Linked DNA regions of Homo sapiens. The protein of the gene in region 4 purifies or fractionates together with the protein of the main gene of each other region. This does not show direct contact. Each region holds a gene or a part of one and is shown on either strand. Other genes may lie near its edges. The genes, in order: EZR, RHOC, MSN and ARHGDIA.

Region 1 (7,016 bases), on a different chromosome or scaffold from region 4:
CTGATCCGGCTTAGTTTTTAATCACAGCTGTACTGTTAAATTTACTACCAGGAAGCATCTCAGTTGCCTTTTTAACCCTTTCCTTCACGTAAATGTAGGCTCACCAGGGTAGGAGCTTTGCCTTGTTGATGGTGCACACAGCCCTGGAAGAGTGCCTGGGACAGCGTGCCACCAGCGAATGTTTCTTTTGCTTACGAGATGGCTTCACATGAGGCTACTCTATAATAAAGGCACATGCACGAGATGCGTTACAATGGCTTCTGCTTGGGGCTTATTATGAAAATATTCTTCAGCTTTTCAAGAGATGGACTTATCATCAAACACACACACACACACACACACACACACACACACACACACACGCACAAACATTCTGAAACAGTCTAGTCCAGAGCTGCTGCTCTAGTCAAATTTTTAATAAGTGTTCTGAAAAGGCAGTAGCGTCACAGAGTACGTAGTAGCCTACTGATGAAGAGATTTCAGCATTTTCTTGCTCTTCTAAACTGTGCCAATCTTACTACCCAAGTGACATGAAGACGCTATGACCCTCCATTCATGCTGTTGCATAATATGAACTGCTGCCATGGAGCCTTAGAGTCTGCATTCAATACGCGTTTAATTTTAAATAACCGTGCAACTACCCACAGAGTAGCAGCCAAGAGTTTGCAAACAGCAGGAGCCCTTTTTTTTTTTTTTTTTTGAGACGGAGTCTAGCTCTGTCACCCAGGCTTGAGTGCAGTGGCGATCTCAGCTCACTGCAACCTCTGCTTCCTGGGTTCAAGCGATTCTCCTGCCTCAGCCTCCCGAGCAGCTGAGATTACAGGCGCCCACCACCACGCCCAGATAATTTTTGTATTTTTAGTAGAGATGGGGTTTTCACTGTGTTGGCCAGGCTGGTCTCGAACTCCTGACCTCGTGATTCGGCCATCTCAGCCTCCCAAGGTCCTGGGATTACAGGCGTGAGCCACTGAGCCTGGCCAAGACGTTTTTAACAAAGAAGAAAATACTTTCACAAAATTGTCAAGACCTGCTGATTTTAAATTATGCTAGACAAACCTGTATGTGGGGAGAAGTAACAGGACAATAACACCACATACTGTTCTAAGTGGATTTACCATTGCTAAGCAGTACCCAGTCCCAAAAGGGTTAACAAGACAACCAAGGTATGGACCACAGCCCATGTTTGCCTCTCCAAGCTTAACACTGTAACTAAGGAACCAAAATTACATGAGAACACAAAGTCCTTTCCAATCTATAATTTTCGTAAAATTCAGAACAGGCTCTAAGGTGGTAACAGAATTTCTTCAGGTGGCAATTTTTTAGAGAACTAGATTTCTGATTAGATAACAAAATCCTTACCCATTCTACAATGCTACAGTTATGTGCGTATGTCTCAAATATTCTGAGTTAACAAAAGTTTAAATGTCAGCAGAATAAATAAAACCAAATTTACATAATGCACTGGTCTTTGCAGCTATTACAATCAATACTATCAGATTTCAGGACATAAAGTGTCGCCTTCTTACCATGTCCTCCCAAAATGACTGCCTGCCAGTGTCACCTGTGTGAGGATGCACACCTCTGACAACAGAAGTGGGTGAAGCCCCGATGAAACCTTGGGCACCAGCAATGCTTGGGTGCAAGTCTGACTGTCCCTATCTTGGGTAAGTTCCAGGACAGCTCTGAAAGGCAAATCTGGCCCTTGAGACTCGCAGGTCCCACTGTCCGTCAGGTGCCGGGGAGAGTCCCTGCACCCAGGTGGTCAAGGGGACAGGCTGGCTCTCCACACCAAAAACACAGCATTTTGGGAAATGCTTATCATTTGGCCAATGGCTCAGAACTGCCCTTTTCTTCATAAGGAATGAGAATCATTTGAAAAGTTAAGTGGTCTCCCCTGCAGCAATTGCCTGGCCCACAGGATCTCTGGCCCTCAATGTAACCTCATGAGGAGTTTGGACTATCACTGGCTACTCGTCACAGTATAACTTGTCCGTTACCCTGACAAGTATAAGAATGAAAAACAGTAGCCCCTGAATAGAATCCTTTGGAACTTACAGGTGCCTTCTTGTCGATGGGTTTAATGACAAACTTTTTGTCATTGAAAGAGATGTTCCTGATTTCACTCCAAGGAAAGCCAATCTTTGGGGTTAACCTGAGGTTAAAAAGAAGAAGTGGATGGTTAGATGTATACATATGTTCTTGGATTGGCTAAGAGAGATTCGCAAATCAATTCTTATTAGTTCAATTAAAATAATATGAAGCTAACCCAAGAGGCACAATGTGTTATATGCTATTATCAAATAGTTCCCACCTGTCCTAGGTTAAGCCAAGTGGTTGGCTGCAAGGCATCTGCAACCTTAATCTGTTCCCATTTCCTTTGGTTTTTCCTCAGTCTAGGGCACCTATGATTACCCAGGCTGGTGATCTCGAGGTCAACTGAAATTCCTACCCAGGTACCTTGACCCTCCCCCTCAGGTATCTTCTGCTGTTCATTCCCACATCACATCACCACACTCACCTACCTCTCATCCTGCCAGAGCCCACTCTCAAGCTGTGTGCTGGAGCAGCCCTACTTTCAGTCTGCTGATCTGATTAATTTCCTCTCCTCCCATGTCAACACAGTCCTTAACTCAGCATCCAAGAGCTGTCAAATCCAGCCCCAAACTCCACGGTTCAGACCCACCTTTCAACACACAGTTCCCCAGGGCTGCCTCCCTTTCCCTTGAGGCCTCTCTTAACATACAGGCTCTTCTGCTACAGACTGTTGAATGTTATTTAAGTTACTGATCATTTAGTTCTATGAAACCAACAGGGAGGGCCAAGATCCCATCACGTTCCTAGACGTGCCATACTCAACAGAGCTTGCCAAGAGAAACGGACAGAGGCCTTGCTATGCATTCTGCTCCTCTGGTTCTCATTCCAGTGTGTGTTCTCCTGGCTGGACAGACATCTTCCCATGTCACTCTCCAACTTCCAGGACAGCCTTCAAACTAACCGCCCTAATGAAGGCCCCACAGGGCTAATCCTACTTAACCAATGCAATGCCATGACTGGCCAGACTCTGGCTTTTATTAGCATTCCCAAGTTCATCATGTGACTTCAAGACCACATTGCTCTGCTCACCTGACACTTCCCACCCTATTCTTCCAACACATTTTACCAGGGATAATGCCATTCTGGAAATAACGACAAATCCTCAAAACCACCATCCAACAATGCTGCCCTCCAAAGCAGTCCTTTCCAACATCCCACAAAAACCTTCATTTTAGAAGTAGCAGGAAGGTCAAGCAATCTATGGCCTACCAACAGCTTCAATACTGATGAGCAATACAGGTTTCGTTATGATCACATCAACTAGATCAAGGCAGTGGGGTGGACTCTGTAGGCTGAGGGCAAACATGTAAGCCTGACATGGCCCTTCTGGGGAATTAGCGCAGTCAGTCATGGTGTGCCTGCAGGAATGATGGCAGGACACTGGCCAGACCATGGTTCTAAATGTCAAAGCTTTTGTATACATCCTTTCTTTTACAGTGCTATGCTCTAGAATCACCAATCCCCATTAAAAAAAAACACACCTGGCATTCAAACAGACATGCAATGAGTTTGTTCTTTTATCTTCGAGATGTAATTTTCTTTACAGGTTTCAGAGCATTAAAGGGGAACTCCAGATACCACCTTGCCCTGCTACTGACTTCAGCCTATGTCCTCCTTACATTGAAAGGCTGTGAAAGTGGCACCAGGTAGGCATGTGTTGCTTCTGGAGCACTTTCTCCCAAAACACAAGAGCAGCCTGCTGGCACCAACAGAGAAGCTAGGATCCAAGCTCCGGAGGCTCCGCCCACAGCACATAGCACTGTGAGCCAGCGTGCCGCATCCTGAAACTTCAAGGGGCTGGGATCCCCTCTCCGGCTCCTGTCTCTACACAGGACTCTCAAAACAGGTTCTGACCTTAGAAAATTTAGGCCTCCGGCTCTCTGGTGTGCCTAGAAAGTTTTTCCTCTTAGGACTTTGAAACCTCATATAACAATTCATAGCCACTCATAAGCATAACTGCAGTATCAAAACAAAAAGGTTAAACATGAAAATTATGACTCACTTTTGAGTTAAAGAACTTTTAATTCTTGACCAAAGTTGGAAAATTAAAGCCCAAGGATTTCCTTTTTCCTAAGAGATCACATATAGGACATGAACAGGGTCTACAGAGAAGGTGGCCACAGGGTTTATAAGTGTCCTTGCTTAGGCCACACATTAAAAAAGCGTGATTCTCCAATAACAGGGACCAGACAGAGGCCTTTGGAGAAATGGCTGATTCCAGGACTAGAACAGGGAACACAAAGGATGAACCTGGTGCATCTCGAGGAGCCAGGCAGCAAGGAAGCCTGCAAAGAATGCAGGGCTCACACTTCAAGGTGCTCCTAAAGGCCAAATCTCAAACAACCTGAGCAAGAAGATACATACTCATAGATCATAACCCAAAGACCGAAACACATATCCATGAGTCCATATTAATATAACTGAATAAATGGAGAACAGAAATTGGCTCCTTATAGAATTCCAATTAATACACGTAAAAAGTTTTTAAAAATCACAATTTCTCAAATACCACAGTAATCTCATCAATGGTAGCTAGAACTAGGACATCTACATAGTTTAAAATTATCTCCCCCAAATATACTGACCAATTGTAAAGGGAAGGATAGTGATTTTACAGTGGAGAAACGTGGCAGACACCACCTTAACTAATAATCAAAATTAGCACCACCTAAGATAAGATATACCGACCACATGTGCCACCTTGAAAGAGGTCCTGGAAGGGCAAAACAGCACTTTATTCTTACCAAAAATGTAAAACTCCAAATAATGAGAAAACACCAGACAATCCAAGCTGAAGGGCTTTCCAAAGTCAATGGCCAGTACTCTTCAAAAATACCAAGGTCATGACAAAAAAAGACTGGAACTATCCCACATCGAAGGAGACAGGGAGGTCTGACAACTAACTGTGTGGCTCCAGAGAGGGTCCCGGGGCAGAAATAGGACATCAGTGAGACAACTGATTAAAATGGGAATGAGGTCTAGAGACTGCTAATGTTAATTTTCTTATCTTGGTATTTGGACTACGGTTACATAAGGTGTTAATGTTTGAGGAAGCTAAGTGAAGGGTATATGGGAATTATTTGTACTATTTTTAGAATCTTTTTAAAGTTTGAAATAATATATATATTTTAAATTGAGATGGGGTCTTACTCTGTCACCCAGGCTAGAGTGCAGTGGCACAATCTTGGCTCACTGCAGCCTCCGCCTCCCGGGCTCAAGTGATCCTCCCACCTCAGCCTCCCAAGTAGCTAGGACCACAGGCATGCACCACCACGCCCAGCTAATTTTTTGTACTTTTGGTGGAGACGGGGTTTTGCCATGTTGGCAAAGACCAGCCCAGGCTGGTCTTGAACTCCTGAGCTCAAGGGATCTACCTGTTTTAGCCTCCCAAAGTGCTGGGATTACAGGTATGAGCCACCATGCCCAGCCTGAAATGACTTTAAAATGCAAGAATGGGCCAGGCATGGTGGCTTACACCTGTATCCCAGCACTTTGGGAAGCCAAGGTGGGCAGATCATTTGAGGTCAGGAGTTTGAGACCAGCCTGGCCAACACAGTGAAACCCCATCTCTACTAAAAATACAAAAATTAGCCAGGAGTGGTGGCATGTGCCTGTAATCCTGGCTACTCGGGAGGCTGAGGCAGGAGAACCGCTTGAACCCAGGAGGCAGAGGTTACAGTGAGCTGAGAATGTGCCATTGCACTCCACCCTGGGTGACACAGTGAGATTCCATATCAAAAAAAAAAAAAAAACCAAGAATGATTAAAAAATGTAAATCCAAAATATGTAGCTGAGTGTGATAATGTTCTACATGTCTTAAGATTTTGCATTTTTCAGGCATATTTGTCAGAACTCAACAAATGAACACTTAAGATTACATTTCATTGTATTTAAATTTTACATCAAAAGAACAAAACATAACCAACCTCTAGTATATCATATGCACTTTCATTTTGAGGAAGGATATGGATGCCTGCAGTTTTCTTGGAAATGTGTTAGAGGGCCAGAGGGTGACAGTGGAGTGCATACGGAAAGAGACGTGAGAAAGCAAGCGAAGCCCTGAGTACCTATCCGCAAGGAATTTAAAGAAGAGACATGTTCTGTGGCTCCTGTTTCAGTCCCCAAGCTCCCCGTGCACCCTTTCCCTTTAAGGTGGAAGCCCTGGACCTAGTGCATTTCCAGAAACTCCTACCTACAGAAGGACTTCTATGATGAAATCTGCCCAAAGAGGGATGAAGCTAAGGGAGAAAAAGTGCTTTTACAGGACTAAAGATCAGGTTCCTCTAGTTTTTGTTAGTTTTTGTTTTTGGTCCGAGTGTCAGGTTTCAAATTGTAACCCAGCTAAACTGAACTTCCTCTGTTCACAAGCTTACAATGCCTGTCAGGAGGGCGCTTACCTGTTTTTGCCCTCTTTATACTCCCACCTATTCCAAGCTAAGGGTTTAAAGAAAGATGACAAATAGTCCTACATGCTCCCACTTAATGCTTATGTGTACAATGAAAAGGGAACCCCAAGAGACAGATTTCCCAGCCAGACCCTATTTAATACTAAAACAGGTGTTTTAATAGAGACTTTACTTGCAGAGTATAAATCTCTTAGAGCTCAATTTCCATATTCAATAGATCAGCTTTCTCACCTGAACAATGTTTCAGGCATATCTAATTCTCCTAGTTCTACCGAGAGAGGTAACAGCGCAACAGCTGGCGAGTTCTCAGCACTCCTCAGACTTCAGGACAGTCTCCTGCTTATGCTGCTACCAAGTTGTCAATATTTGTTCAAAAGGGAAAGAATTTGGGCCTATTAAATGACTGAATATCTACATAAATGCTTTTTTCATGAAGAGAGGGGTGTGCCTTCAGGAATGGGGAGAAGAGAGGCAGAAAGTGAGCCTGCCCAACACCCCAGCATGCTCTGTGGGGAA
Region 2 (7,916 bases), on a different chromosome or scaffold from region 4:
CCGGAATGGTGAAATCATTCCAATGTCCCGGGAGTTTACCCCGGAGACTGAGCGCCAGCGTCTTCAGCTGCTTGTAAGTAGGAACCAAATTCCCTACCCCCATTCTTTGTCGGGTCTTGTGCCTCCCTGCACCCCATGGCCCTGAGAACTCTCACACCCCCACCACAGGCACAGAAAGCACTTTACTGGGAAGGCCGCTGTGTGGACTATGGAGTGCGGGGCTGAGCCGGTGGGAGGTTGCAGCAGGGAGGCTGCAGCACTGGGCTGGTCCAGTGCTCCCACTGTGGCCCCAGCTGAGGCAGGAAGTAGAGACTGAGGTGGGGGAAGGAAACAGCAAAGGCCCCTGAAAGGCAGTCCGGCTTAGTGCCTAAACGCATGTGGCTGTGGAGCTGGAAGCCCGGGATGCATCCTGGTCTGAGTGCTTTGCTAATTGTGTGACCGGAGCAGTTCCCTCCCTTAACCTCTCTGTGCATCAATAGTTCCTGCCTTAAGGGCTGTTGTGAGGAGTAAATGAGTTAATATTTGCTAATATTAGAATAACGTGTGGCACATGGTAAACTCTGTTTAAGGGTCTGCTGTAGTCAACGTCATCTGTGTGCCACCGTGTGCTGTGAGCATAATGCCCCCTGGCTCTCTGTTCTGATCATCCCCAACTCCAGGGCTTCCTGAAACCAGAGCTGCTAGGCAGTGAATTCACCCACCTTGAGTTCCCCCGCAGAGTTCTGCCCAAGGAGCTGGGGCAGAGGATGTTGTACCGGGACCAGAACATGACCGGCTGGTAACACTTCCCTCAGAGCTGGGGCCCGTTCCCATGGCAACACAACCAGTCCCTCGCCCGCAGCAAGGTGGAAGCTGGAGGCTGGGAGTTGGGAGGATGTGGCCCTTCTAAGGGGTTTGTGTGAGGGTATGCAGCTCCTAGGGGAGAGGGGCTTTGATGCCTGGGTGATGCCTCCTCTACTCCCCCCTCCCCAGGGCCTACAAAAAGATCGAGCTGGAGGATCTCAGGTTTCCTCTGGTCTGTGGGGAGGGCAAAAAGGTAAACTCCATGGTAGAGGTGGGAGAGGGGAGGAGGACCTATCACAACTTGTCTAGGGAGGTGGAGGTTCTACCTGAGGGTAGGGGTGGAAGGGATCTTTGGTTTCAGAGAATCTAGCAGAGGACTACAGTGGCACTCCCTCCTCATTTCTTTCAGGCTCGGGTGATGGCCACCATTGGGGTGACCCGAGGCTTGGGAGACCACAGCCTTAAGGTCTGCAGTTCCACCCTGCCCATCAAGCCCTTTCTCTCCTGCTTCCCTGAGGTGAGCCCCTTAAACCACACCTTGCCTTCTCTGGGAGTCTCAGGCCAGCTTTCATCTGCAGTCCCTTTATCTCCAAGCTCCCTGTCCAGCAAACCCCACACCTCAATCCTCTCTGCCCTTTTCTCCCACCAGGTACGAGTGTATGACCTGACACAATATGAGCACTGCCCAGATGATGTGCTAGTCCTGGGAACAGATGGCCTGTGGGATGTCACTACTGACTGTGAGGTAGCTGCCACTGTGGACAGGGTGCTGTCGGCCTATGAGCCTAATGACCACAGCAGGTAGGGGCTGCATGGCATGGTGGTAAGGGGATGGCATTGGTGAAAGAAGGGTCAAAGGGAAGCAATGCTTGGGACCCCACATGTGGGCCTGTGTATCTGTCTTCCCACATACATGTTGGTACATGAATGTGCATGTGTGCTCCTGGCAGGTATACAGCTCTGGCCCAAGCTCTGGTCCTGGGGGCCCGGGGTACCCCCCGAGACCGTGGCTGGCGTCTCCCCAACAACAAGCTGGGTTCCGGGGATGACATCTCTGTCTTCGTCATCCCCCTGGGAGGGCCAGGCAGTTACTCCTGAGGGGCTGAACACCATCCCTCCCACTAGCCTCTCCATACTTACTCCTCTCACAGCCCAAATTCTGAAGTTGTCTCCCTGACCCTTCTTTAGTGGCAACTTAACTGAAGAAGGGATGTCCGCTATATCCAAAATTACAGCTATTGGCAAATAAACGAGATGGATAAAGGTGTGTGTCTGTATTTGCTTTGACTAGAAACTGAAAGATAAGAAGAAAGCTCTGTGGGGTGGTGGAAAGAGCACCAGAACAGTTCTAGAAATGTGGTGTCCCCCAGGTTCTTTATTCCACCCCCACTCTTTCCACTCCACGCATTTGCTGTGAGTGTCATCATCCACTTCTGTGGCCTCACCCATCTGCCCAGACCCTTCCTGAGCTTTAGACCCACACATACCAGTCATCTCCCGAATGTCTCCTGGATAGCCTGCTGGCACTTCAATTCAAATACCTCAAACTAAATTCACGACTGCCCTCCATAGCATGTTCCTTCTCCTGGTATATCCCCTCAATGGGCACCAGCTCTGCTGCTCCAGTTAGAAATCTTGGAGTTGGTCACCCTTGGCTTTCATTTCTTTCTCATCAAGGTAATTGATCACTAAGTATTGTTGACTATAGACCTTTAAAAGTATTTCTCTACTTATCTCCATCTCTCCCCGCCTTCAGTCACCACCACCTTTTACTATATTGGCCTCCTAAATTTAGTGGCTCCTTATTGCGCCTAGAACAAAATCAACACTCAACTCCTGTGCATGGCATATAAGGACCTTCATGATCCAGCCACTGCTTCCTTCTCCAGCTTCATTTTTTACCACCACCACCAACTTCCTGGGGTTTGCATAACTGTGGGCTTTTAGTAGCTCCAACTTATTCAAAATCTACTGCTGGACACGGTGGTTCACGCCTGTAATCCCAACACTTTGGGAGGCAGAGGTGAGAGGACTGCTAAGCCCAGGAGTTTAAGACCACCCTGGGCAATAGTGAGACCCCATCTCTACAAAAAAATAAAAAATTAGCTGAATGTAGTGGTGAGTGCCTGTGGGAAGCAGTTAAGCATCCAAGGAAATTAAGAGTATTGCTTATAGTAGAAAAGAATAAAGATCTCAAATCAGTGATCTGTTTCCACCTTAAGAGGCTAGAAAAAGAACAGCAAATTAAACCCAAAGTAAGTTAAGGGAAGCAAAAATAAAGATGAGCAAAATAATTAGAAAAGGCCCCTCACCAGCCTGGGCAATATAGCAAGACCTCATCTGTACAAAAAATACAAAAATTAGGTGTGATGGTACACGCCTGTAGTCTCAGCTGCTGGGGAAGCTGAAGTGGGAAAATCATTGGAGCCTGGAAAGTTGAGGCTGCAGTGAGCTGAGATCTTGCCACTGCACACTTAGGCAACAGAGACCTTGTCTCAAAAAAAAATTAAAATTAAAAAAATCTACACATCACCTTATCTTGAGAACTTCACCTGTTGTTCAGGACTGGGTATCGCACAGCCCACACATGCCCACACTACAGCAATGACCTCCGGTATTGTAACTGTCTACATTAGGAGTCAGTAGGGAGTAGGAATTAAGAACAGGGGCTCTAGAGTTCAGCTGTTTGGGTTCTAGTGTCAGACCCAGCACTAGCTCTGTAACCTCTCTGAACCTCAATTTGCTTCTCAGTAAAATGGAGATAGCTACCTCATGGGATTCTTGTAGTTAATGTATGTGGACCCAGGTCCATGTAATATGGATTCAATAAATGTTAGCTATCTTGAAATTGCATTCCTCATTTAGACTCTAAGTTGTTTGAAGGCAGAAATGGATCTTCCGAACATAGCTCTCAGTTCACCCTCGAGAAATGTTCATTGAGTCAGTTAAGAGGCCTGGGGCCAAACTGCTGCGGACCTGTTTTCACATTTGTCAAATGTCTGGATTGCACTTCAGATATTTAAAGTCTGTATGACTCCTAACATTCATTCATTCATCAAATATTTGTTGACAACCTATTATGTGCCACTCACTCTGCTAGACAACGGGGGAAGGGACAGGCTGGAGGAGCCCGTGAGGTAGCAGGGCCAGACCACCAGTTTGGAGCCAGACAGGCCCGGCTGTGTGAATTCTTGCTGTCACAAGTCAAAAACAGTTGTGTAAGCCACTTGATTTCTCTGAACCTCAGCTTCTCTATGGGCAAAAGGGGATGGGTATATTTTCCCCAGAGATCTGTGATGAATATTGAAAGGGTTAAGCTGTGTAGTGTCCCAAGCACAAGCCAATGAAATGTTGGTGGACGTCCTCATTCTACTCCCACCTCCTCAGCTCCCTTACAGGGAAAGGAGATACGCGTGTAGGTAAATATCCTATGCGCCAAGTCAGACCTAGGAGTGGGAACAGAATTCACAGCTGGGATCCAGAAGCATTTCTAGGCGCACCCTTTGAGGAGTAGGTAGGAATTGGACTCCTGGAAATTCCAGGCCCAGGGAAGAAAGCGAATTGTGAGGAGGAACGGTGGTCTGGGTCTGAACGGCTCTGAGAGGTCTTCAAGTTTGGGGGATGACGTTGGGCTGTACGATCCTAGGAACAAGAGGGTGGACATCTCCCCCCAACCAACACACCCGCGCCGGGCCCTGGGACCTCCCGGCGGATACCCTTTCCCAGTCCCGCTTCCCGCGAGGTCCCAGGTGCAGCAGGAGCGGGTGGCCGCTTGGCCACAGGAGGGCAGCAGCGGCCCTTCCTGACCCCACCCCGAGCACCTCTTAACTTTCCCGACGCCGGTCCTCCCCTAGGGGATTGAAGGCTGGGCAGAGTCTGAGTCCACCCGGGTCGTGCTCCCCCCGCTCGCCCGGCTCCTCCGCAGTCCAGGAATCTCCCCGTGGCTCTCCCCGACCTGGAGGGGTGGACGCCCCTGGCCCCCAGTCCCCGGCCTGCGGAGGGGGCCGGTGGCTGCGGCCCTGCGCGGGGCCGGGGCGGGCCGAGCCAAGGGCCGCCCCCGGCCGACCCTCCCCCTGCCGGGCCCGCCCTCCCCGCCGCGGCGCTGGAGGAGGGCGGGGCGGGGCCCTGGGGTCAGTCTGAGCCTCCGGCACCGGCCGCGCAGCTGGAGGCGGCGGAGCGGAAGGTACCCTGGGCCGGGGCTGCGGGCGGTGGGGCGTCTTGGGAACTCGTCCCCAGGAGAGCACTTTCCCTTCCTCGCTGGCCCGGAGATCGGGGCCCGTGCGAGGAGGGGCTTCGGCCTGGGCGTGGACCCCGTTCCCTCCAAGCGGAGTCGGCATCCGGGCTGGGCGGTGGTCGGACCGCGTCGGCCCCTCCCCGGGCTGCAGCGAGGGGGCCCGGACCTGCCGGCAGGGGCTCTGGCCTCCTGAGGTCCGAGTCGGAGCCCCTTCCCTTCTCCTCCCAGCTTCCCGGAACCTGCCCCGCCGGGCGAGGGGCGAGGGAACTTCAACTCAGACGCCCCAGCCCCCAGGGTGGGCGGCCGCAGGGGACCTAGAGTGGGATGGGGTGGGAATTCCTCCAGGCCAGGAGGGAGGTATGGCGGGAATAGGGGCGGGATGTGACCATTGGGGCCTGCCACTGCTCGGCAGGGTCTGGACGCCGCCCTGGACGGTTCCTGGAGCCCGCTTGTGTTGAGGATAAGGGAGATGGGGAAGGATCCAACTCTGTGTGTGTGTGTGTGTGTGTGTGTGTGTGTGTGTGTGTGTGTGTGTGTGTGTGTGTGTGTGTGTGTGTGTGTGGTGTGTGTGTGTGTGTGTGTGTGTGTGTGTGTGTAGAGAGAGAGAGAGAGAGAGAAAATGAGATTGAGAATCCTCCTTCTTCATACTCGAACCAAGAAAGAGTATCCTGGGGTTTGGGACTGGGATCCCGAGGCCGAGTCCCGCCCTCACTCTGGTTTTAAAGTTGAGAATGCAGTATCTCTTGGTATCTCCAGAACGGATTCCTTCCCTAGGTGTAGGGTGGGCCGGCAAAGTCAACCGGCCGCTCTGGATCATCTGGGAATTCAAGAGAGCGATTGGAGAGAGGTCTGATGTAGCCACACTGTCTTGTCTTGGGGAAGGCCCCAGAAGTTCCAGGCTCCATTCCAGGCCCTGTGTGGGGCTCAGTTGCCCCTCTTAAGGGGTCAGTGGGACAGTCCCTCTGGGGCTGCCTCTCACAGGGAGTTGTCCATGCCATCTTGGCCTTGGGCCTAGTGTCCTGGCCTGGGCTGCCTGCTGTTCTGGCCCAATCATAGCCTGGAGGGAAAGTCTTCTAATTGGGCTGGAGGCTCCAGGTCCCTTAACGCATGCCTCAACCCCGGGTTTCTGTCCTCTGCCTCCCACCACTCTGGTGCCGTCTGAATTACCCTGCTGGGGGGACAGCAGTGGCATACTCATGCCTAAGTGACTGGCTTTCACCCCAGTAGTGATTGCCCTCCATCAACACTGCCCACCCCAGGTTGGGGCTACCCCAGCCCATCTTTACAAAACAGGGCAAGGTGAACTAATGGAGTGGGTGGAGGAGTTGGAAGAAATCCCAGCGTCAGTCACCGGGATAGAATTCCCAAGGAACCCTCTTTTTGGAGGATGGTTTCCATTTCTGGAGGCGATCTGCCGACAGGGTGAATGCCTTCTTGCTTGTCTTCTGGGGAATCAGAGAGAGTCCGTTTTGTGGTGGGAAGAGTGTGGCTGTGTACTTTGAACTCCTGTAAATTCTCTGACTCATGTCCACAAAACCAACAGTTTTGTGAATGTGTCTGGAGGCAAGGGAAGGGCCACTCAGGATCTATGTTGAAGGGAAGAGGCCTGGGGCTGGAGTATTCGCTTCCTAAAGGGCAGTGTGAGGTGGTGGTGGGGTGTGGGGAGTAGAGGCGTTCAGTCAGCCCAGTTTGACAGGATGTGGGACTGAGAGAAAAAGCTAGGTTTGAGGCTGAGATCAGGTTACCGTCGCTTTCTTAACTGCTCCCTGCCTGGTTGGTGCTGGGACTGGCCCTCATTTGTCTCTTCTTTTGGGGCTCCTCCCAGCCCAGACTCTAGCCCCCTCCCCCTTCCCAACAGCCTTGACTTCATCTCAGCTCCAGAGCCCGCCCTCTCTTCCTGCAGCCTGGGAACTTCAGCCGGCTGGAGGTCAGTTCCCCTCCCCAGGGAAGGAGGAAGTGAGGGAAGCTGCGAAGGTGTGATGAACTGTGCAGATGCTCGCTGTGTGTGCTGGGGGTGGGGGACACATGGAAGCCCGGGAAGCTGACTCCTTGCCCTGAGTCACAGGGAGGGGTGGGCAGGGCATGCGGGTGAGCTGGACTGAGGGAGGAAGGGGCTGTTCCAGAGTGGGTGGAGGTGATTCCCTGGTGGATTCTTCTCAGTCACTGTGCTGTGGTAGATGTGTGGCTCCCTACAGTGTGGTCATTGTCCCCTGCCGGGGGCTGAGTGACCCAGTGTTGCTGGCAGGCCTAGGAGGAAGGGGGGAGGAAGGCAGCCTGCCCAAACTCGAGCTGTGGGCATTGCTGGGACTGAGCCTCCTTTGTATTACTTGGGGCTTTGGGGACCGGGTGGGGTGGACCAGGGAAGCTGGCTGGCTGCTACCCCTGTCCTCTGTCTGGGTTTCCCTGCTTCTGCTCTCCCTCCTGCCCCTGAGGTGACATGTCGAAGAGGCACGACTTTGAGTCACACAGTCCTGCTTTGGGTGCTGTCCCTGCCCCTTATAAGCCACAGCTCTGAATCTGTCTTAACCTCACTGAGCCTTAGTTTCCTGGTTTGTCAAAATGGAAAGTGCACCATCTACCTTCCAGGCATCTGGGTACCGAAGGAGATAATTCCTGCCAAAATGCCCGACAGAGTGCCTGGCACCTAGGGGCTCTATAACTATTCTTCCTTTACCCACCTACCACCTGGTAGCTGGTTCTGCTACTCTGGTCCTAGAGAGGGACTCCTCATTTGTGACTGGACAGGTATGACTTGTGCTGAGGGACAGTCTGTTCTAGATTGGACCTTAGAGATTATTAAACTGTAAATGCATCAAAATCCTGGTAACCAATGAAGTCTGACTCGAAACCCTGATGTGTGAAGTAGATAGAAGCTTGCTCCCTGGACGTCCCGCATCCC
Region 3 (7,768 bases), on a different chromosome or scaffold from region 4:
CCTCCGCCTCCCAGGTTCAAGCGATTCTCCTGCCTCAGCTTCCCGAGTAGCTGGGATTACAGGCGCACACCACCACGCCCAGCTAATTTTTGTAATTTTAGTAGAGACAGGGTTTCACCATGTTGGTCAGGCTGGTCTCGAACTCCTGACTTCATGATCTGCCTGCCTCGGCCTCCCAAAGTGCTGGGATTACTGGCTGGAGCCACCACGCCCGGCTGGCGTGTTTTAACAAATGTAGGGGAGGTTGGGCTGACTAGGAGGGACAATTAGCTATAAAAGTGAAACCGACCCTAGATAGGTTGTAGACATGCTGCAATATGAATGAACGAGTTTGATTTTCCACTACCTTTCTCCATCTGTCACACGCTAGAAATAGCCTAAAGCACATAAATGAAAATGGAGCAGAGAAAGGGAAATTTTTTCCCCTTTTAATTAAAATTACTGGTTGGTATTCAGTGAACTAGGGTGTGCCCCTGAACACCTTGGCCTTGGTATGAGGAATAAGAAAAGTAACAGAAGGCACCTGGTGACACTACCGAACCTTACCAGGAGACCACACAAATGTCAACCTTGGCCACTTTGCTCAAATTACTCATTTCCTTTTATCTGAGGACCATAAAGGTCTGAGAACAGTGGGCAATTTGTTTGGAGCAAGAAAGGGAACTCAAATGTCAAGAACTCAATCATTGGGTCAGAATAAAGGGTCAATGAGATGAGCATCAGAAAGCCTGGACCCCAATCTTGGCTCAGTCACCATGTGCCCTTAGGTAGGTCTTTCCCTGTAGGTCTCAATAGCCTCATTAGATTTTTGTTTTAGTTTTAGTTTTTTTTTTTAAGAGAGTTGTACTAAATAGTCTCCAAGGTCCCTTTCAGGTTAAGATTCTATGATCTTAACAGACATAATATAGTTGCTTTTCCTAAAAGTTGACCATTCCTTGAGTCAAAGTATAGAAAATTCTCTAATACTTCCAGTCTATCAAAATTCAGCCCTCTCCTTCCAATTTGATTCAGGTTTCAGTCAATCTGCATAAAAATGCCTTCAGTATTTAGGTACCCTCATTACTCCAGGCCTGACTACAAACAGCTTATACTCCATTCTCTCTCCATTCCCAGGAAAACAATAAACACGCTGTCTTGTCTTCTTTGCCACTTTGACTCAGATGAGACGGTTAATGCAAGTTTGAAGCAACTTCCAGGCCCATGAAGCTGTGTTTCAAAGTGGGCTATCTCAGAACTGAGGATGAGATATGCCACTACAGAAGAAAGACCGTGGAGCAATGTCTATTCCCAGAGATCCACCCAACTGTTCAGGCAAAGCCGCACCTTAAGAGGAGTCAGGAGTCAACCACAGAGAGAGACCCAAAGAGCCGCTCCTGACAGGATCTTTATAATCTTGTTTTGGCAGACAATGGGATATTTTCCCCTCTCTCCAAAACCATTACTCTCTCTCTTTGGGGGCGGGGACTAGGGAACAAAGTGTGTAAAAGCCTCATGTCCTAAAACCACAAGCAATTTAAAGGAGATAGACAGTGAAAGCACATACTTTTTGAAAACTTGGTGTTTCTGAAGGACAAGGTTCTGGAAAGGCAAGAACGACTTGGCAGTGAGGCTGGTATACAGTAACGTGGCAACCAAAGCTCATCACAAACCCAAAAGGCTGGGCCCCCAACTCTCCTCCTCTCATCCCAGGGGACCTTCAGCCCTTTTCAAGGCTACTAGTCACTATCTCACCTCTACAAGGCTCAAGCAGTCCTGGGGAGACATGTTTGGGAGCACTGCATTGCCTAGGCCAGCTCAACAAGCTGTTTGGCCTAAGGGACTCAAGCCAGGGTGGTCACCAGGCCTTTCTGAGCAAGGGAAGGGCCTCAGCAGCCATTTGGCATGACTTGCACAAAAGCAAGCAGAGCTCATTAGTCAGGCACACCCCTCCTCCCCTCTCCCTCCTGGGCATCCGGCCCCCCTATCCCCACTCCCAGGAGGCTTCTGTTCCTCTCGTAACAGCCAGTGGGGTGGAGACGCATCCCCAAATCAACCACCACTCTAGAAAGGTGTGGCCCCACGAGAAAACCCACACCACACAAAATAGTCCGGAGGGGATAGGAGGAGATAGAGAGGCATTAAGCAATAGGAGGGGCAGGGATTTGGAGGTGGAGAGGAGGGAGAAACCGGTCCTCTCTCCCAGGAGATGGGGTAGGCCTCTCCTCAGACTGGTGCCTAAATAAGTGTTGGTGCTCTCGGGTGCAGCCTCGATGACGATTTCCTCACATCTCTCTCCTCACCTCCTAGTGGAAAACAGCTGGAGCCACCCGGTGAGGCTGTGGGAAAGATGAGTGGGGGTGCCGGATCCGCCCCGAGCGGCTCCCTCCTTTCTCCCTGCTTCTCTGTTCCCATGTCCCCTCTTGGACATTGGCAGCCTTGCCCCAGAAAGGTGCCAATTCCTGGGTTGGGGAAAGTGTTGTCTTCTGGACCAGAATCCTCTCCTCTGTGCCCATGGCCCATCAGGGAAAAGGGGAAACCCCAGGCCCCAACGAAGCCGTCCTGACTGTTGCATCTCAGACACAGGGAACTGGAACCTGAGAAAGAGGCAGGCCTCGCCCCGTCCAAACTTCCAGCCTGGACACCCCCTCAACCCCTGAGGGCGCACCAGACCAGGATCCCACTCCGGTCCCCTCCCTACCCTTGGCTATGGCGGAGGGCGCGGCGTCCCAGGCGGGCCGGTGGCTGGCCAAGCCCTCAGCCATCAGCAAAGGGCTATGAGGCTCAGCCAGAGCCATTGGGGTCGACAGCGCCCACCTCCGGCACTCACCGTTTTGGGCATGGTGGCGGCAAAGGCAGCGGAGTTGGCGAAGTTTAGCTAGGACTGTCGGGCAGTGCTGAGCACGCAGTACACACGGCTTGGATTCGGCTGGCCGGGGACTCAGATTGGGTCCCTCACTAGCGTCGGGGCGACTGTTAGGCTTCCTGCTAACGGGCCACGACTTCACAAACCCCACCCAGGAAAGAGCCGCCCCTGTCGCGCCGCCCGCTCCTTTATGTGGCCCGGCTTCCGCGCCGCTCCCCGCCCTCGCGCCCGCCTCCCCGCCGACCGCTGGCCTTGCCCCGCCCAGCCCCGCCTGGCCAGGCCCGGCGCAGCCAGGCCACAGCGGCCACGTGGGGGGCCCGGCTGGGCCCGGGCGGACCTAGGGTAGCTACCACTCCCCACCCAGACCCACCCGGCTCCTCTCCCACCCTGGTCACAGCCCCTAGCCTTCCACGTCCTGGCCTTCCAGCCCCACCCCCACTCAGGGCCCAGACCCTGGGCCCTGACAGATGCTTACTCAGCCCCTGACTGCAACTTTCCACTGATGGGGAGCTCACTACCTATCTTTTCCTTCTCTAGACAGCTCTGGCTCTTAGAAAGTTCTTGCCGTGTCTGAACTCCTTTTCTCTATGGCTTCCATCCATGGATCTCAGTTCTGCTCCCTGAGGCCACACAGATCCCCTGTTGTCCCTAACAGCTCCTCAAAGGCCTGAAGATCTCAGGTCCACAGGAAACTTCTCTTCTTTTGGCTAAACTGCCTCACCTCTTAAAACACTTCATCCATTCTCTTCCGTAGGACTCTCCCCATCATATTTCCTACCCATCCTTGCTCAGTCCTCATTTATCTTTCCTTCATCTAAATCCCAGTCTTCACCTTCCTCAAATCAGTGACCTGATCCTTTAGCCCCTCTCCCAGTACATTCACTTTCTGATGTCCTGATGGGGCTGGCTATAATTCCCTCAGGTTAGATGTGACCTCCCTAGTCCACACCCTTGGGGTTTGTCTGCCAGCTCCCTTTCTCCTTCTTGTCAAGGTCACAGAATCCCAGGATGGCAGTGTTCTAGACTGTTGAAGTCGTCTGGTCAAGTCTGAGTTTTAGGCTGAGTGCGGTGGCTCATGACTGTAATCTTAACACTTTGAGAGGCTGATGCAGGAGGATTGCTTGAGCCCAGGAATTCGAGACCAGCCTGGGGAGCATATCAAGACCCCCTCCCATATCTATACAAAAAAAATAAGTGAGAGCCGGGCATAGTGGCTCACTCCTGTAATCCCAGCACTTTGGGAGGCTGAGGCGGGCTGATCACCTGAGGTCAGGAGTTCAAGACCAGCCTGGCCAACATGGTGAAACCCCGTCTCTACTAAAATTACAAAAATTAGCCGGGCACGTGCCTGTAATCCGAGCTACTCGGGAGGCTGAGGAGGGAGAATCGCTTGAACCCGGGAGGCGGAGGTTACAGTGAGTCAAGACTGAGCCAGTGCACTCCAGCCAGGGCAACAGAGTGAAACTCTGTCTCAAAAATAATAATAATAATAGTAAGTGAGACCATGTGCAGTGGCTTACACCTGTAATCCTACCACTTTGGGAGGCCAAGACCTGCAGATCACTTGAGGTCAAGAGTTTGAGACCAGCCTGCTCAACATGGCGAAACCTCATCTCTATTAAAAATGCGAAAAAAAAAAACAAAAAAATTAGCCGGGTGTGATGGCACGTAGTTCCAGGCACTCGGGAGGATGAGGCAGGAGAATCGCTTCCGGGAGGCGGAGGCTGCACTGAGCCCAGATTGGGCCACTGCACTCCAGCCTGGGCAATAGCACAAGACTCCGTCTCCAAAAAAAGTAAAATAAAATAAGTCCGAGTTTTAGTTTGAAAGTGGCTGGCCATAGTCCTTTTTTCCTCCTCTCCACTGGCAACCATGTGAAGGCATGGTCTGAGTATCCTTTGTGAGGTAAGGCACCACAGATGGTAAGCCAGTTTGAGACAATGGAAAGGATACTTGAGAGGTCAGGACACCTGGCTTCTACGTATAGCTCTGCCATTAACTCATCCTATGACCACTATGTGGCCTTGGGTAATTCCCTCCCCCTCTCTGGGCTTGAGTTTCCATTTCTGTAGCAAGAAAGGACTGGACTCCGGGGCTTCCAAGGTCCTTTCCCACTCTGACATTATAAAGGGATGAGAAAGGAAGTATACTCCCTAGGACAATAGATGAGCCTAACAGGATTGCATATGGGCTGGTCTTGCATTTGCACTCAGGAACCAGTAGTCTGATTCCATCCTCTTCCTTTGCCTTCCCAGACCAACAGTGTCCACGATTCAGTGTGCCTCGGTTTCTCTCACTGCTAACAAGATTCATTGATGTGTGCTAGGGTAAACAAAGTTCCCTGCCAAGATCATTTCCTTGAGCTAAGCATTTGTTCAAAGAGCAGCACTCATCGGAAAGCCCAAACAGTCTCCATGAGCAGTTGTCCCCAAGGAAGAGCAGCACTCACCAGAAAGCCTCAGCAGCAGGAGTAGCAATGACAGCTCATCACACGCCTTAATACTGCCATTGGCCCTTTTCCACCAGATGTTCAAGGAACTCAACTGATTTCTTCACTCATGTTCACCTAGAACCTACAGGGACCTGGCATGAAGCTAAATGCCTAAAGACAAAGAATTTACTTGGCGACTCCAACTTTCTGGAAAGTGGAAACTCCCTTGTGTCATTCCCCACCTCCCATGCCAACCACTCCCCACAACACACATACACAGGGGAGAGTTGGGTAGAGAGTGTCAAGTAGCTGAAGACACTACTAAAAGGGAAACAAGGACCAGGTGTGGTGGCTCACACCTGTAATCCCAGCACTTTGGGAGGCTGAGGCAGGCAGATCACTCGAGGTCAGGAGTTCAAGACCAGCCTGGCCAACATGGGAAAACCCCATCTCTACTAAAAATACAAAAATTAGCTGGGTGTGGTGGCATGTGCCTGTAATCCCAGCTACTCGAGAGGCTGAGGCAGGAGAATTACTTGAACCCAGAAGGCAGAGGCTGCAGTGAGCAAAGATCATACCACTGCACTCCAGCCAGGGTGACAGAGCAAAACACTGTCTTAAAAAAAAAAAAAAAGAAAGGGGGCATAGAAGTCCAAGCAGGGGCAGGGGGTGTCAGAGGCTCGGGGAGCTAAGAAATAGGGGGAAAGGGGCTGAGGGAGAAAGATGAGGTTGGACCTCTGGGGAGGAGAGGATGGGAAATAGAGAGAGAGCATAAACTATCAGAGACTAGTTAGTCCAGTCTCACTCCAGGTCAGGAGAACTGGGGATCAGAAAGAGGAAAAGACTTACCCAAGGCCAGATAGCTAATGTACAGAAGACAAAGAGCTCAGTTAAGAAGCTCTGGCAATAGTACAAGCAAGAAATTTTTTAAATATTATTTTCTCATGTTTTATTTTAGATACAGGGGGTACATGTGCATGTTTGTTACATAGATATATTGCACTCAGGTAGTGAGCATAGTACTCATTAGGAAGCTTTTCAACCCATGTCCTCTTCCCTCCCACCTCTAGTAGTTTTCAGTGTCTGTTGTGCCCATGTTTATGTCTGTAGGTGCTCAATGTTAAGCTCCCACTTATAAGTGAGAACATGCGGTATTTGGCTTTCTGTTCCTTCACTAATTCACTTAGGATTATGGCCTCCTGTTCCATCCATGTTGCTACTAAGGACATAATTTTATTCTTTTCTATGGCTGCATAGTATTCCACGGTGTATATGTACCACATTTTCTTTATCCAGTCGACTATTTCTTTCTTTTTTTTTTTTTTTTGAGATGGAGTCTCACTCTGTCACCCAGGCTGGAGTGCAGTGGCGTGATCTCGGCTCACTTCAAGCTCCGCCTCCCGGGTTCATGCCATTCTCTTGCCTCAGCCTCCCAAGTAGCTGGGACTATAGGCACCCGCCACCATGCCCGGCTAATTTTTTTTGTATTTTTAGTAGAGACGGGGTTTCACCATGCTAGCCAGGATGGTCTCGATCTCCTGACCTTGTGATCAGCCCACCTCGGCCTCCCAAAGTGCTGGGATTATAGGCATGAGTCACCGCTCCTGGCCTTAGTTGACCATTTCTTTATCCAGTCAACCATTTTCTTTATCCAGTCAACCATTGATCATGGGCACCTACATTGATTTCATGTCTTCGTTACTGTGAATAATGCTGCTATGAACATGCAAGTCCATGTGTCTTTTTGGTATAATGATCTATTTTCCTTTAGGTATATACCTAGTAATAAGAATGCTGGAACAAATGTAGCTCTGTTTTAAGTTCTTTGACAAATCTTCAAACTGCTTTGCCCAGTTGCTGAAGTAATTCACATTCCCACTAACAGTGTATAAGCATTCCCTTTTCTCCACAGCCTCGCCAGCATTTGTTGTTTTTTTTGACATTTTAATACTAGTCATTCTGACTGATGTAAGGTTACCACCTTACATCTGTTAGATTGTGGGTTAGATTTGCATTTCTCCGATGGTGAGTGATGATAGGCATTTTTTTTTCATATATTTGTTGGCCACTTGTATGTCTTTTTCTGAGAAGTGTCTGTTCACGTCCTTTGCTCATTTTTTTTTTTTTTGAGACAAAGTTTCACTCTTGTTGCCCAGACTGGAGTGCAATGGCGTGATCGTGGCTCACTGCAACCTCCACCTCCTGGGTTCAAGTGATTTTCCTGCCTCAGCCTCCCGAGTAGCTGGAATTACAGGTGCATGCCACCACGCCTTGCTAATTTTTGTATTTTTAGTAGAGACAGGGTTTCAGCATGTTGTTCAGGCTGGTCTCGAACTCCTGGCCTCAGGTGATCCACCTGCCTCAGCCTCCCAAAGTGCTGGGATTACAGGCGTGAGCCGCCACGCCTGGCCCTTTGCTCATTTTTTAATAGGGTTATTTATTTTTAGATTATTGATTTGTTTAAGTGCCCTATAGATTCTAGATGTTAAGCCCTT
Region 4 (7,943 bases):
GAGGCAGGAAAATTGCTTCAACCTGGGAGGTGGAGGTTGTGGTGAGCCAAGATCGCACCACTGCACTCCAGCCTCGGGAACAGAGCAGGACTCCATCTCAACAAATAAAAATAAACAAGGTTTTTAAATAACAAAATTATTTTAAAAGTTCATCCTTTTAGTAATGCAAGAAAGCCAGTTAATGTGATGCCATCATTTTAGGACGTAGCATTGGCAAAGACATATATGTCTGTCTGTCTTTTTTTGTCCTTTTTTTTTTTTTTTTTTTTTTTTTGAGAGACAGGGTCTCTCTGCTGCCCAGGCTAGAGCGCAATGGTGCCATCTCAACTCACTGCAGCATCTGCCTCCCAGGTCCAAGCAATAATTCTGCCTTAGCCTCCCGAGTACCTGGGATTACAGGCACCTACCACCAGGCCCGGCTAATTTTGTATTTTTAGTAGAGATGGGGTTTTTACCATGTTGGCCAGGCTGGTCTTGAACTCCTGACCTCAGGTGATCCATCTGCCTCAGCCTCCCAAAGTGCTGGGATTACAGGCGTGAGCCACCGCACTTGGCCTTTTTTTGGTTTTTTTTTTTTGGAGACAGAGTTTTGCTCTTGTCACCTAGGTTGGAGTGCAATGGCGCTATCACGGCTCACTGCAACTTCTGCCTCCCGGTTTCAAGCAATTCTCCTGCCTCAGCCTCCTAAGTAGCTAGGATTACACGCATGTGCCACCATGCCTGGCTAGTTTTATATTTTTTAGTGGAGACCACGTTTCACCATGTTGGCCAGGTTGGTCTTGAACTCCTGACCTCAGGTGATCCACCCACCTCGGCCTCCCAAAGTGCTGGGATTACAGGCATGAGCCACCATGCCCAGCAACAGGATCTCCTTTTGTCACCAAGGCTGGAGTGCAGTGGCATGATCACAGCTCACTGCAGCCTTGACCTCCCAGGCTCAGGTGATCCTCCCACCTCAGCCTCCAGAGTAGCTGGGACTACAGGTGTGCGCCACCATGCCCAGCTAATTTTTGTAATAAACCCTTCGATTTACATGAACAAAAATTTTTTTTTTGAGATGGAATTTTGCTCTTGTTGCCCAGGCTGGAGTGCAATGGCACGATCTTGGCTCACTGCAAACCTCTGCCTCACGGGTTCACACCATTCTCCCACCTCAGCCTCACGAGTAGCTGGGACTACAGGCATGTGCCACCACGCCCGGCTAATTTTTGTATTTTTAGTAGAGACGGGGTTCCACCACATTGGGCAGGCTGGTCTCAAACTCCTGACCTCAGGTGTTGCGCCTGCCTTGGCCTCCCAAAGTGCTGGGATTACAGGCGTGAGCCACTGCACCCGGCCTATGGTGAATAAATTTTCAACAAAGGTGGTGAGACATTGCATTGGGGGAAACGATAGTTTCTCAACAAGGGGTGCCAGGACAGGTGGATGTTCCTACACACAGAAAAGATGTTCACTCCATACGAAAAGTTAACCCAAATACGGACTGTATATCTAAATGTCAGCAAACATAAAATATAGCAGAAGATCACAGAAAAAATATGAGAGAGAATCTTTACAATATCCGGTTGGGCTAAGAGTTTGTTTTTGAGACAGGGTCTCTGTCACCCAGGCTGGAGTGCAGTGGTACAATCATAGCTGACTGCAGCCTCGACATCACGGGCTCAAGTGATCCGCCTACCTCAGCTCAGGAGTTCTTAGGATAGCAAAGGCATGCACCATGTGGAAAAAACTACTGCACTAGAATAAAAGGTTTTGCCCTTAAGAAGACATCATTAAGAAAATGAAAGACAAACCACATAAAATGTCTGCAAATCACCTATCTTTTTCTTTTGGAGACAGAGTTTTGCTCTTGTTGCCCAGGCTGGAGTGCAATGGGGCAATCTCAGCTCACTGCAGCCTCTGCTTTCTGGGATCAAGCGATTGTGTTGCTTCAGCCTCCCGAATAGCTGGGACTACAGGCGTGCACCACCACACCCGGCTAATTTTTGTATTTTTGGTAGAGACAGTTTTTTTGCTATGCTGGCCAGGCTGGTCTCAAACTCTTGGCCTCAGGTGATCCGCCTGCCTCGGCCTCCCAAAGTGCTGGGATTACAGGCGTGAGCCACTGCACCCAGCCTCATATATCTGATAAAGGACTGTATACAGGATATGTAAGTACTCATAGCTTAATCAGACAGCCCAATTAAAAATGAGCAAAAGATTTAAATAGGTTTCTGCCCAGGAAGACTCATTGGGGAAGTGCAGGTGCGACTCACAGTGTGACACGACACTGCTTCACACTTGTACAGCTGGGATCAAGCACAGCAGGTATTGCTGAGCCTGTGGCCACCTGGAGCAGCCCAGCGTTGCTAGGGGGTGCAAAGTGGCACACCTACATTGGAAAACATTTGGGGACTTCCACTCAGGAATCTACCCAAGAGAAATGAAAGCACATATTCATGAAAAGGCTTAATGCAACATTTATAATGGTTTATAATATTCGTAAATGTTTATGGCAGTATTATTCATAATGGACAAAAAAGAAACCAAATATTTGCCAACTGGAATGGTTACAAACAAAATGTATACCCACACAATCGAATCTTTTATTTATGTATTTATTTATTTATTTTGACAGAGTCTCGCTCTGTCGCCCCGGCTGGAGTGCAGTGGCGAGATCTCCACTCACTGCAAGTTCCGCCTCCCGGGTTCACGCCATTCTCCTGCCTCACCCTCCCGAGTAGCTGGGACTACACGCACCTGCAACCACGCCTGGCTAATTTTTTGTATTTTTAGTAGAGACGGGGTTTCACCGTGTTAGCCAGGACAATCTCGATCTCCTGACTTCGTGATCCGCCCGCCTCGGCCTCCCAAAGTGCTGGGATTACAGGCGTGAGCCACCGCGCCCGGCCCAACAGTTTTTTTTTAAAAGCACTTGGGTTATTGGAAAGTTGGGCAACATGATCACCTGCACAGGGGCTCTGAGTCTTTAACAGTGAAGCATTTCACACCTGATTAGGAAACGCTGTGCTGATGACATGGCACTGACAGTGTGACTCAGTTACAGAAACTCTCAAATATCCCTCCAACATTCAGAAATTTTCAAAAGACACCAAGCTCGGTATTTTGCATAGTTCTGTCCCCAAAAATGCCCTCCTGTGTTCATGTCTGTGTCTGAACAAAGCAGCTGTGCGTGTGTGTGTGCGTGTGGTCTCCACTTCTCTTGATCAGCCTGGGTTGCCTGGCAGTATGGGCCAAACAGACAGGGCCCTGTCTGCATGGAGCTCAAGAGTGATTAAAAGAGGCTGGGTGGCCGGACATGGTGGCTCACACCTGTAATCCTAGCACTTTGGGAGGCTGAGGCAGGAGGATCGCTTGAGCTCAGGGGTTCAAGACCAGCCTGAGCAACATAGTGAGACCCTGTCTGTACAAAAAATAAAAAATTAGCTGGACATGGTGTTGCACACCTGTAGTCCCAGCTACTCGGGAGGCTGAGGTGGAAGGACTGCTTGAGCCCAGGAGATAGAGGCAGCAGTAAGCTGAGATTGTACCACTGCACTCCAGCCTGGGCAAAAGAGCAAGACCCTGTCTTGAAGAAAAAAAAAAAAAAAAAAAAAGATTGGGCACCCCGGTGGTTCATGCCTGTAATCCCAGCGCTTTGGGAGGCTGAGGTGGGTGGATCACCTGAGGTCAGGAATTCGAGACCAGCTTGGCCAACATGGTGAAACCCTGTCGCTACTAAAAATACAAAAATTAGCTGGGCATGTTGGCTCACACTTGTAATCCTAACTACTCGGGAGGCTGAGGCAGGAGAATCGCTTGAACCTGAAAGGTGGAGGTTGCAGTGAGCCGAGATTGTGCCATTGTACTCAAGCCTGGGCGACACTGAGACTACGTCTCAAAAAAATAATCAATCAATAAATAAAAGAGGCGTCCACGTTAACGAGTCCACAGTCCTAACAAGTGCTGCAGGCTGGACGCGGGGCAGCGTCCCACCCAGTGTCTGGTGCAGGGCATTTAGGGGCTTGGCCTCCAGGAGAGGCGAGCCCGGGGCTGGGTGCGAGCACTGCTGCTGGGCCAGGCCACTCACGTTATGCGGCCGTTCCTGATACTTCAACACGGCCCTTGTGGGCGAATGTGTGGAATCTCGGAACAAGCGGAGTGGGGAACAGGGCTCTGCGGTGAAGCCCAGGCTGAGGCAGCCCCTCATCTGCTCACGGTGCCAGGAGCTCCCTGCCTCCTGGTCCTGAGGAGCCGCGGGATTCCTCAGGGACACTAGGGCCTCTGCAGCGGCGCCTGCGCCAGGCAGCCACGCGCGCTGCGCACGAATTCTGTCTCAGCCTGGAGAAAAACACCTCCGCTGCGCCCTCGCCCAGCACCAGCTTTCCGCGGGGCGTGCAAGGGGCTCCTCCTAGCCCCACAGCCCTGTCTTTCCACGGGGGACACCAAGGCCCTGGAACGGCCCGCGCGCCAGCGCTCTCGCCCGTGTTTAACGAGAACTTAATCCCCGTGCCCGTTACCTCCCCGAAGTCCCGGGACTAGGTGACTAGGCCCCGAAGCAAGAGTCGCAGTCGGACCGACTGGGCCGGGGAGGGCAGCGCACTGCACCTGCGCGGGCTTCCACAGCCCACGCGGCCGCCGCAGGCCTCGAGTGGGCGCGGGTTGGGCAGCGGCGAGAGGCGGGACCGGACCTCGCCTCCCGGGTGCGGGCGCCCTGGGCTCGCGTAGGGAAGTGCCCTGGCTTACAGAGGTGACCACTGACGGGGCTTGGGGTGGAAGGTGACGACGCCAGAACCCACGCGGAACGCGCCCACGAGGCCCAGCCGCAAGATGGCGACGGCGTGCCCCCGGCCACCCGCGCGCCGCGCATGCGCCCTGGCCTTCCCCGCCCGAGTGAGCGGAAGTCTCGTGACCCCGGAAGTGACAGGCAGGGCGGGCGGGGCGGCCGACGACGTTCGTCATTTAGTGCGGGAGGGATCCTGAACCGCGCGGCCGAACCCTCCGGTGAGTGGCCGTGGCGGGGCGGAGGCGGCGGGGCGGAGGCGGCGGGTCGGGGCGGGGACCGGCGGCGCCGGCGGGGGCGGGGGGCGCTGAGGTGGGGGCTTCCGCCTTTGTTCGCGCCCCGCCCTGAGCCCGCGGCAGGGTCTCGGCGGGCGGGGGCGCGGTGACAGCGGGCCAGGGCGGTGCGGGCTAGGGCGGGGCCGGGGCGGGACCGGGCGGCGGCGGCCCCGGCCCCACGTGCGGGTCCCGGGCCGGAGGGGCGGCGGGGACCAGGGGAGTGCCGGCCCCTCCCGAGCGGTCCGGAGCTTCTTTCATGGCCGCCGAGGCGCGTGGGGCCCGGGCCAGACCTGAGGGCCCCTCCTTGGGGACGCGGGGGGCGCCGGGCCGGCAGCCGCGGTCCATCGCGTTCGGGGGCGACGCGGGGATTGGGGCGCGGCCTCCCCCAGCGCCCGGGCCACGCCCGGCACGGATTGCGGGCCCTGCGGAAGTGCGGGCCGCGCCCTAGGATCCCGGCGCCTACGGCTATCCTCGCGCGGCGCGGAGGCCCCAGCCCCTGGAGGAAGCAGGGCGGCCTGGACCCCGGCCTGGGTGTCCCGGGTGTGCTGCTCCCTGACCCACCTCCCACGCTGCCGGGAAGGATCTGAGCCTGACAGATCCCCTGCCGGGTCAGTGCTGCCCCGGGCACTCCGGGCCCACCATCTACAAGAGGGCCCGAGAGTACTGAGTGGCTGTGGTAGCTCCCAAGTTGTAGGTCACAGACCCTCACAATTGTGGAGAAACCGCAGATACTTAGGATCCCCGTGTCCAGGTGGCCCCGTGCGGTATTCTAGCTGCCCCTAACATCCGAGCTCCAGGGGCATCCTGTTTGAAAGATGACGCTGAGCCGACCACACACGTTTACATGTGACTACCACGGCCAGAGGAGCAACCCTACTGAGGGATACCGAGCCCCGTTACCCCGTAGGGCGAGGGCCTGGGCAGCTCAAGAGCGGCAAGACCCTAAGAGAGGGTTTAGTGTGGGCCCCGCCGGTTGATTCTGGGGCCTGCTAGCCCCGCCCCACACATACAGGGGGCTGCTGCCTCCTCCATCGTGGAGGGGGAGGTGTGTCCTCTCTCCCCATGATCGGCTGCAGTTCCCATTTTGTCTTAGATGTTATACCTGGGGTGGGGGCACCTCACACTGCCCCAGAGGATGCCCCTGAGCAGGAATCGCGGGGGTGGAGAGGAGCGAAGGTGGCCCCCTTGGAGCCCTTTTGGAGCTCCGGCTGCAGCCCACACTCCTGCTCAGAAGTGCGCCTCCGTTGGGGATCCAGGTCCAAGGCCTGTCACCGTCCCGCCCACAGGTGTCCCGACCCAGGCTAAGCTTGAGCATGGCTGAGCAGGAGCCCACAGCCGAGCAGCTGGCCCAGATTGCAGCGGAGAACGAGGAGGATGAGCACTCGGTCAACTACAAGCCCCCGGCCCAGAAGAGCATCCAGGAGATCCAGGAGCTGGACAAGGACGACGAGAGCCTGCGAAAGTACAAGGAGGCCCTGCTGGGCCGCGTGGCCGTTTCCGCAGGTGAGTCTGGGCTGCGGGAGCCGGGTGGCCGCCCGTTCACTCCAGCTGTCTTGCCGCTCCCCAGCCCCTACTTCCACTGGTGGGGGTGGGGCCCTCACCTGCTGTCACTCCCCAGACCCCAACGTCCCCAACGTCGTGGTGACTGGCCTGACCCTGGTGTGCAGCTCGGCCCCGGGCCCCCTGGAGCTGGACCTGACGGGTGAGTGCCCTGCGGCCGCGGGGGTCCGGGCGGCCCCTGGTGGGGATCTCGGGAAGTGCAGCCAGGGGGCCGCGCAGGGCTGGGGCTTCGCGCAGGGCTGCTGGGCAGTCATTGAGGGGGAGGTCCCCCCAACAGGCGACCTGGAGAGCTTCAAGAAGCAGTCGTTTGTGCTGAAGGAGGGTGTGGAGTACCGGATAAAAATCTCTTTCCGGGTAAGCTACAGGCTGCTGTGGCCAGGGAATGGAGGCGGGGCTGGGGCTGGGGTCCGGACCGACCTTCCCTGATCCTCGCTTCGGGTCCTGCAGGTTAACCGAGAGATAGTGTCCGGCATGAAGTACATCCAGCATACGTACAGGAAAGGCGTCAAGAGTGAGTGGGGCCCCGGGCAGGGCAGAGGGGGCCGCTTGGGTGCGTGCTGCCAGGCGGGGAAGCGGGGCCGCTGACCGCCCTCTTCCTTGTGCCGCAGTTGACAAGACTGACTACATGGTAGGCAGCTATGGGCCCCGGGCCGAGGAGTACGAGTTCCTGACCCCCGTGGAGGAGGCACCCAAGGGTATGCTGGCCCGGGGCAGCTACAGCATCAAGTCCCGCTTCACAGACGACGACAAGACCGACCACCTGTCCTGGGAGTGGAATCTCACCATCAAGAAGGACTGGAAGGACTGAGCCCAGCCAGAGGCGGGCAGGGCAGACTGACGGACGGACGACGGACAGGCGGATGTGTCCCCCCCAGCCCCTCCCCTCCCCATACCAAAGTGCTGACAGGCCCTCCGTGCCCCTCCCACCCTGGTCCGCCTCCCTGGCCTGGCTCAACCGAGTGCCTCCGACCCCCCTCCTCAGCCCTCCCCCACCCACAGGCCCAGCCTCCTCGGTCTCCTGTCTCGTTGCTGCTTCTGCCTGTGCTGTGGGGGAGAGAGGCCGCAGCCAGGCCTCTGCTGCCCTTTCTGTGCCCCCCAGGTTCTATCTCCCCGTCACACCCGAGGCCTGGCTTCAGGAGGGAGCGGAGCAGCCATTCTCCAGGCCCCGTGGTTGCCCCTGGACGTGTGCGTCTGCTGCTCCGGGGTGGAGCTGGGGTGTGGGATGCACGGCCTCGTGGGGGCCGGGCCGTCCTCCAGCCCCGCTGCTCCCTGGCCAGCCCCCTTGTCGCTGTCGGTCCCGTCTAACCATGATGCCTTAACATGTGGAGTGTACCGTGGGGCCTCAC

The links.
Region 1: the proteins of ARHGDIA (region 4) and EZR purify together in Homo sapiens (co-purification; 3 studies listed by BioGRID and IntAct, with this or other methods). This does not show direct contact.
Region 2: the proteins of ARHGDIA (region 4) and RHOC purify together in Homo sapiens (affinity purification with mass spectrometry; 4 studies listed by BioGRID and IntAct, with this or other methods). This does not show direct contact.
Region 3: the proteins of ARHGDIA (region 4) and MSN purify together in Homo sapiens (co-purification; 2 studies listed by BioGRID, with this or other methods). This does not show direct contact.

Annotation. Positions count from the first base shown.
Region 1 is NC_000006.12:158,774,353-158,781,368, forward strand, and holds part of EZR (ezrin), read right to left. Parts: intron 2,153-7,016; coding exon 2,056-2,152; intron 1-2,055. UniProt on the Homo sapiens protein: Probably involved in connections of major cytoskeletal structures to the plasma membrane. In epithelial cells, required for the formation of microvilli and membrane ruffles on the apical pole. Along with PLEKHG6, required for normal macropinocytosis.
Region 2 is NC_000001.11:112,704,128-112,712,043, reverse strand, and holds the start of RHOC (rho-related GTP-binding protein RhoC precursor), read left to right. Parts: upstream 1-4,916; 5' UTR 4,917-4,966; intron 4,967-5,105; exon of another isoform or gene 5,106-5,211; intron 5,212-6,875; 5' UTR 6,876-6,944; intron 6,945-7,916. Other genes in the region: PPM1J (protein phosphatase 1J), read left to right, coding at 1-73, 660-778, 973-1,036, 1,193-1,300, 1,433-1,584, 1,734-1,881. UniProt on the Homo sapiens protein: Regulates a signal transduction pathway linking plasma membrane receptors to the assembly of focal adhesions and actin stress fibers.
Region 3 is NC_000023.11:65,662,892-65,670,659, reverse strand, and holds the start of MSN (moesin), read right to left. Parts: upstream 3,007-7,768; 5' UTR 2,819-3,006; coding exon 2,807-2,818; intron 1-2,806. UniProt on the Homo sapiens protein: Ezrin-radixin-moesin (ERM) family protein that connects the actin cytoskeleton to the plasma membrane and thereby regulates the structure and function of specific domains of the cell cortex.
Region 4 is NC_000017.11:81,868,338-81,876,280, reverse strand, and holds the start of ARHGDIA (rho GDP-dissociation inhibitor 1), read left to right. Parts: upstream 1-4,943; 5' UTR 4,944-4,983; intron 4,984-5,283; exon of another isoform or gene 5,284-5,645; intron 5,646-6,323; 5' UTR 6,324-6,350; coding exon 6,351-6,540; intron 6,541-6,655; coding exon 6,656-6,739; coding exon of another isoform or gene 6,740-6,874; coding exon 6,875-6,951; intron 6,952-7,044; coding exon 7,045-7,108; intron 7,109-7,205; coding exon 7,206-7,405; coding exon of another isoform or gene 7,406-7,916; 3' UTR 7,917-7,943. UniProt on the Homo sapiens protein: Controls Rho proteins homeostasis. Regulates the GDP/GTP exchange reaction of the Rho proteins by inhibiting the dissociation of GDP from them, and the subsequent binding of GTP to them.